Homo sapiens: one gene and its partner. The protein of the gene in region 2 interacts with the protein of the main gene of each other region in a pairwise test. Each region holds a gene or a part of one and is shown on either strand. Other genes may lie near its edges.

Evidence for each region.
Region 1: the proteins of CD40 (region 2) and INSIG2 interact in binary tests that used the Homo sapiens proteins (3 or more experiments, as listed by UniProt).

Annotation. Positions count from the first base shown.
Region 1 is NC_000002.12:118,105,471-118,108,483, reverse strand, and holds part of INSIG2 (insulin-induced gene 2 protein), read right to left. Parts: intron 1,748-3,013; coding exon 1,581-1,747; intron 1,395-1,580; coding exon 1,295-1,394; intron 204-1,294; coding exon 162-203; coding exon of another isoform or gene 122-161; 3' UTR 1-121. UniProt on the Homo sapiens protein: Oxysterol-binding protein that mediates feedback control of cholesterol synthesis by controlling both endoplasmic reticulum to Golgi transport of SCAP and degradation of HMGCR.
Region 2 is NC_000020.11:46,116,963-46,121,113, forward strand, and holds the start of CD40 (tumor necrosis factor receptor superfamily member 5 isoform 1 precursor), read left to right. Parts: upstream 1-1,351; 5' UTR 1,352-1,381; coding exon 1,382-1,432; intron 1,433-4,151.

The sequences.
Region 1 (3,013 bases), on a different chromosome or scaffold from region 2:
ATGTGTGTGTGTATATATATATTTATCCATATATACACACACGCCAATCAAGGGGAAAACTGCATCCTGGCAATTTTACAGTCTGAAGTTTTGTTGGTATATCTACCATTTCACATCCTTTTCATCTTGCTTTTCTGTACAAAAGATATTTTTTGCCTTCTTCATTCCTGATGAGATTTTTCTGCGATAACTTTACATTCGTACTGCAAAAATTAAAAGGTTAAAAGGTTAACAGATTAAGACTTCTTTTGAATAGCAACTTCCAAATAAACTGAAAAGCTCTAAAAATGAACATTTTATTACTATGTGCCCATTTATTCCTCAAATAATCCAAGAGTTACATAATTACTATGATTAAATGACAAATGTGACAGGGAAAAAAATAATTCACATTCTGGAAGTGAAAAAGCCACAGCCAAAAGCAAGAGAAAGATGAGATTTCTGCATTACAAGCAAGTAGTGGCAGTATATGATTTAGAATTTAGATCAATCTTTTAATGTCGAAAGGAAGCAAAGCAGGTTTCTTTGAGTATTCAATAAGGCAAATTAGCAAAGAATAGTTCATGAACTTAAGGATAGGGCTGTTGTGGTGAACTCAGATCACTGTATTTTCAAATTGCTATATGATATAAAGGAAAAAATCTGTTACATTAACAAAAGCTTCCAGTCAAAACAACATTTTTAAAGTACAGCTATAAAAATGTACACCCACAATTCAAAATAAAGGAAACCAACAGGGTAAGATAATTGGTTGGCTATTTTACCAAAAATACAGCAAAGTAAGTCACTCAATTCTCCTAACCTGGCTAAAAAGGTAAAAGTGACAGCACTGATTCATAAAACTGCTGTGGCCTCTGAATGTCACTCCCTAGCCTTTTCCTTTTCCTTCATCACTAAAATGATCAAACATCTTGATTTGTTAGAGGTGGTCCTAATGTATACCTATTGTAGCAACACACTTATTAGTAGTGACCTTTTTAACTTTTAAAACTGTCCTTTTCTGATATAGTGGGAGACCTGTAGATTAGTTTTTTAAAAACCACTAATATCCCCCATATGGTCAATAAATCATATTGCCCTATCCATAACACATTTTGAGTTTTTCTCTCCAGTGGCTCCTCAACTTTTAAAACACCTGTGATTAAATTCTTCCAAATGATTTATTTCAATGGAAGTGCAAAAAAGCAATCAAAGAATGTTGTCTTCACAAATTGCTTTCCCTTAAAGGACTGCCTTTTAGAGAAAACTTGTCATTTGTTCCACATCTTATTCAGAAAAGTGAGCATCAGCTTACCATTGCCAGTTGTCGACCAATGTTTCCCATTGTTATGCCTCCAGCAAAAAATATACATGGTAACCAAGAACGAACATAGAGGAAATCTGGAGATGTATATCTAGAATAACAGACATGTCTTTAATACCCACAGAGGAACTGCAATGACACTTAAGATAATTACAATGAAAATAAACTACTCTGTAGATTAAACTGGCTAACCTCATTTCATAATCTCAATTCTGAAAGCGGTTATCATTTATTTATCTAGCAAACAAGCACCAAAAATTGAAGGATTAATACTTACTGGTAAACACCATTATATACTAGCAGTTGAGTGACCACAGTTGCCAAGAAGGCAATTCCTACTCCAAGGCCAAAACCACTTCTAGATCTATCAAAAGTCCACCACAGTCCAATGGATAGTGCAGCCAGTGTGAGAGACAACTGTATGTTGTTATCGAAATCCACTTTCTGAGATCAGTGTTAAGAAGTCATCTTAAAAGTTGTAACCAAATAATATCATCTGTTCATTTTTCTAAATAAGAGATGCCTCTGTTGAGAAGGGAATTAATTGCTTCTACTCAAGTACATTCAGTCTCTTAGTACAATGTATGAAGCTAGGTGGGATTAAAACTGTCTCCAGTATTTACCCAATACCAGATACACAAAAGACATTAATCAATAGATCCTACCAACTGTAACCCCTCCAAAACAAAAAACAAAACAAAACAAAAAGAACAGTCTACATACATTCCCAATTATAAGGCTTTACCCATTATTTAAGAAATGCTTTCTTTGCTAAAAATGTAACTGGAAGCCTCAGAACACAAGTATCACTAAAGGAACACACTTTTGCAAAAAAGGAAACCAATATTACTTCTCCAACAGGTTTAGAATTACTTGAGAATCGTACAGGAACTTGAAAATAGAAGAGTTGACAGCTATTTAACAGGGTACCACATTCTCTCTATGATTTACTGACAGACACATTTTATAATAATGCAGTTCAGAAACAAGAGTACCAAGGACACAGTATCCCTTTCTATTATGTCAACTGTTCTAGTTTTAATTTGTTGAGGATAAAGCCTTGAAGTGAACATTATCTTACAACCTGCCAAGCTATTTTGGTGCCTGAGACTTTCTGGTATAGGACAGTTTGCTCAAATGATATTTTATTTTCATCACCTACTTAAGCATCTATTCACAAATGTATGGCCCTTTTCTACACCAAAATCTCTGGGTAAAATTAAGCTTTACAAATTCAGTTTTCTCATCTCTTTGCTAGAGGATTACACTAAAGGAATTAATTTCAAGTGTCATTAAAAGGGCATTATCTATGTCCCAAAGGCCACATCTTGGCTCTATAACCAGCTACTGGGGAAGGCGGGGGAGGTTTGGGAGAACACGTATCACCAAACTGACCATGCTGCACGTATAGAGAAATCCAAAAAAGAAATTGCAACGAAGCCATTTCCCACTTCCTTTAACACTCTTTTTCACCATTTCCCCACCCCTACCAAGCAAGTATCCTAAACACCCAGCTTGCTTATTTCTCAGAATCTCAGGACTATTGTGGGCAACTCCCTCAAGGTCCTTCCTTGTTAAGGCTTGATTTAAAAAGAAACCTACAGTTCATATGGGTATGCTTCTGGAAAAGCTTTTCTTATTGTTATGCTGTCATTATACTTAAAGTTCAAAGAAAAGGTTTAGAGCTCTGATTTCCCTATGAAATAAACA
Region 2 (4,151 bases):
AACATACTTAAAGTGTTTTATGATGCCACAAAAGGCTGGCCCACTCTTTTTTTTTTTTTGAGATGGAGTTTTGCACTGTCGCCCAGGCTGAAGTGCAGTGATGTAATCATTGCAATCATGGCTCACTGCAACCTTGACTTCTTGAGCTCAAGCGATCCTCCTGCCTCAGCCTCCTGAGTAGCTGGGACTACAGGTGTTTGCCACCATGCCTGGCTAACTTAAAAATTTCTTTATTTTGTAGAGATGGGGGTCTTGCCATGTTGCCAGGCTGGTCTTGAACTCCTGGCCTCAAGCAATCTCCCTTTTTGGCCTTCCAAAGTGTTAGATTACAGGCGTAAGCCACCGCGCCTGGCCCCCACCTTTATTTTTATTTTTATTTATTATTTATTTTTTTTTTTTTTGAGACTGAGTCTTGCTCTGCCTTCGAGGCTGGAGTGCAGTGGCACGATCTCGGCTCATTGCAATCTCTGCCTCTGCGGTTCAAGCGATTCTCCTGCCTCAGCCTCCCGAGTAGCTGGGATTACAGGCGAACGCCACTACATCCGGTTAATTTTTGTATTTTTAGTAGAGACGGAGTTTCACTATGTTGGCCAGGTTGGTCTCGAACTCCTGACCTCAAGTGATCTGCCCGCCTCGGCCTCCTAAAGTGCTGGATTACAGGCGTGAGCCACCGCGCCCGGCCCCACTCTTAATAAATGCCTGTCTCCAGGTGCTGGGTGGGAGGTGGGATGGAATGGAATGAGGTGAGGACGCATGGATGCATGGATGAATGGATGGGAAGTTGAGACGACGCGCCCACACGAGGGAATTTCCTTTGAAAGAGAGCGAAATTCTGAGTTGGGAAACTCTTCCTTGAAACGCCTCCCCATACCCCAGCTGTGGCCTTCCCGTTTTCTGCGTGGTGGTGTGGGGGGAACTTCCTCAGGCCTCTCCGCAGTGGAGCCTCTTTCGGTTCTGCCAGGATACCTAGAGGCAGCGGAGAGCGGGGCAGGGAGGGGAAAACCGTGAGGGTCCCTGTGGCAGGCCCCAGCACCCATGGGATCTCTCTCCGGTCGCAGGAAGCAGGCTAGCTCCTAGCCCGCCTCGGCTTGGCCTTTGTGGGACCTGGGGGCAAAGAAGAAGAGCTGTCTCTGGGACCATGCCTCCTCCCGTACACAGCAAGATGCGTCCCTAAACTCCCGGGGGAATTAGACTTGTGGGAATGTTCTGGGGAAACTCCTGCGCGGTGAATTGCTGGGGGCTCCGCCCCCCCGATAGGTGGACCGCGATTGGTCTTTGAAGACCCCGCCCCTTTCCTGGGCGGGGCCAAGGCTGGGGCAGGGGAGTCAGCAGAGGCCTCGCTCGGGCGCCCAGTGGTCCTGCCGCCTGGTCTCACCTCGCTATGGTTCGTCTGCCTCTGCAGTGCGTCCTCTGGGGCTGCTTGCTGACCGCTGTGAGTTGTTTTTGCCCCGACCAGACGGGAGTTGGGAGTGGGGAATGAGAAGGAAAGGGAAGGAAGACTTCGGGGAAGAGGCCTTCCTGGCTGATTTTTGTGGGGGCAGGAGGGTGGGTGGGAGCTGGGCAAGGTGCCCCCGCTCCTGGCTGAATGGGGTGGGCTGCCTCTCTCTTCTCCCGGGCTGGGGTCCCGGGAGCGGCCTACAGGGGCCGCTCAGGGAAGGCACTGGCTGCCCAAGCGTGCCTAGACGGCCTGGACGGGTTTAGGGAGCCTCAGAGGCTGGCCACACAGAGACTGGTAGGGGGTTCAGAGGGCGGGAAGTGAGGCGGACCAAGGGAAGGGGCGGGTCTGGCCCGTTTCCTGTCCCCTTCTTATTGTGGACAGATGCCAGCCTCTGTAAGTAGTTATCATCTCCTTGCCAGCTGGGGCTGCCTTCTTCCAGGGCATCTTGTGGGAACAAGAGATGGGTGCAGAGGCCCAGGTACTTTTGTGAGAAGGCAAGGAGCTTTTAACATCGCCTTCCACCCCGAACCGTATCTTGGGTGTTCCAACCTAGGAGGAATCCCCAGGGCTTTGCCTTTTTCTCCTGAATTTAAGATGACATAGGAGACCCCTGGGGAGATGAACAGTTTATGGGACACAATAAAGGGTTAGGAGACCAGAGTTCTGGTTGGCTCTGACAGGGCTGGTGATCAGAGGGCTGGAGAAACCAGGGGTTTCTCCAGGCACCAGAGGGGCTCAGAGCCAACCAAGCATATCTCCGGGATTTTCAGAAGCCTACACTTGACTCACTTTTTGTTTAAATGTATTTTTGTAGTTCCTCATTCTGGAGGCTGGGAATCCCCCAAGTACCTGGCTCCTTCATCCCAGCCCCTCTGGCCTCCCCCTACTTTAGAGGGCTGTAGATTCCTGCCTGAAGCCTGGGCAGGAATGACCCATGGTATCAAGGAAAGCAAGGGAAGCAGCAAGGGAAGAGAGGGAGTGGGGAGGCTGCTTTGGTCCCACAGCTTTCACTTTCACCTGAAGCAATGGCTCTTAGGGAACAGGGAGGCAGGGGGAGGGCGGAGCTGGAAAGAGGTAAAGGGGGGCCCTTGTGGTAGGAGTGGAGAAAGAGCCAGAGGAGGTGGGGTGAAGGGTGTGATCCAGGCTTCTCAAGAGCAGAGTTTGCCCTCATAACTCCCAACTTTGGCTCCAGGTAGAGGCTGGGCTGTGACAACAATGTCAGAAGCTATCTATTGAGGGCTTCTTGTGTGTCAGGCTCTGAGCCAAACACTGCCTGTTTTCTTTGTCTGATTTCTCACAACTCCCCCATTATACAGATGGGCAAATTGAGGCTCAGAAAGGGGGATTGTCTTGCCAAAGGTCTCATAGCTAGCTAATGGAAGAACCTGGTTGTGAATCTACATCTGCATGATTCCCGAGCCTGCCTCTCAGATAGTGAGAGTCTCCAAGCTCTGGTCCTGAGCTGTTTTGTGGCAGAAGGACCAGAACTATGGGGAGTGAGAACTGGAGATTGACAGACTTTTAGGGGAGCGTTTTATTTCTCATGTGTTTGAAGATGGTATCAAGGACTTTCCTATCTTTGGGAGTGTGGGAGCTCCACGTTCACAGGATGGTGTCTTGCAATGAGCTGGTGGGGGGCAGTAGCCTTTTCTACTTCCTTTCCCATTTTGGGTAAGACACATTTCTGTAAGTAATTTGCTGAGATACCCAGGTTGAATGAGAGCCACCAGTTAGGTAGGATTCTGGACAGCCAGCCAGGTAGCCGGGCTGCTTGCCATATATCATGCAAGCAGAAACAAATGAATGATGATTAAAATTGCCATTTAATGAGCACCTACTATGTTCCTGACACTGTGCTAGGCCATATACATGTATTCTTTCTTATCTTCGTAATCCAACCTGCAGGGCAGGCATTATTACTCCCATTTTAGAGATAGAGAAACTGAGGCTAAGAGAAGCAAAATAACTAGTAAGTGTTACAAAGTCAGGACTGGAGTCTAAAGCTGTCTGACTCTCAAACTTGTGTTCTTTTCACTGGCTGTTCCCAAACTGTGGGACAGTTTTAAGGAGCACATGGACATAGAATTAAACATACACTTACTTTACAGTTCTTTTAAAAATCCTTCTCATTTTTTCAAAGAGGAAGTCTCTGGAGCTAGAATAGAGTTAATGCCTCTCAAAGGCTTGCTAATCCTTCTTTTAAAACAAAAATCAAGAGCAGGCCTGGGAGGGCCTTCAACAAGCAAACAACCAGCTGGGTTTTAATAACCTTGTTTTGTTTCCCCAGAATTTATTTTTAGGGTTACCTTTTATTTATGAGAAGTGATACTGGTTCTTGTCTCTTGGCAATGATGTGAGGTTTACATTTAAAGTAAATGTACCGGCCAGGCACGGTGGCTTGTGCCTGTAATCCCAGCACTTTGGGAGGCCAAGGCAGTCAGATCACTTGAGGTCAGGAGTTTTAGATCAGCCTGGCCAACATGGTGAAACCCTGTCTCTACTAAAAATACATAAATTAGCCGGGCATAGTGGTACACACCTGTAATCCCAGCTACTCAGGAGGCTGAGGCTGGAGAATTGCTTGAACCCAGGAGATAGAGGTTGCAGTGGGCTGAGATGATGCCACTGCACTCCAGCCTGGGCGATGGAGCGAGACTCTGTCTCAAAAAATAAAATAAAAGTATTGAAATTAACAATAAGTAATTAATAGCAT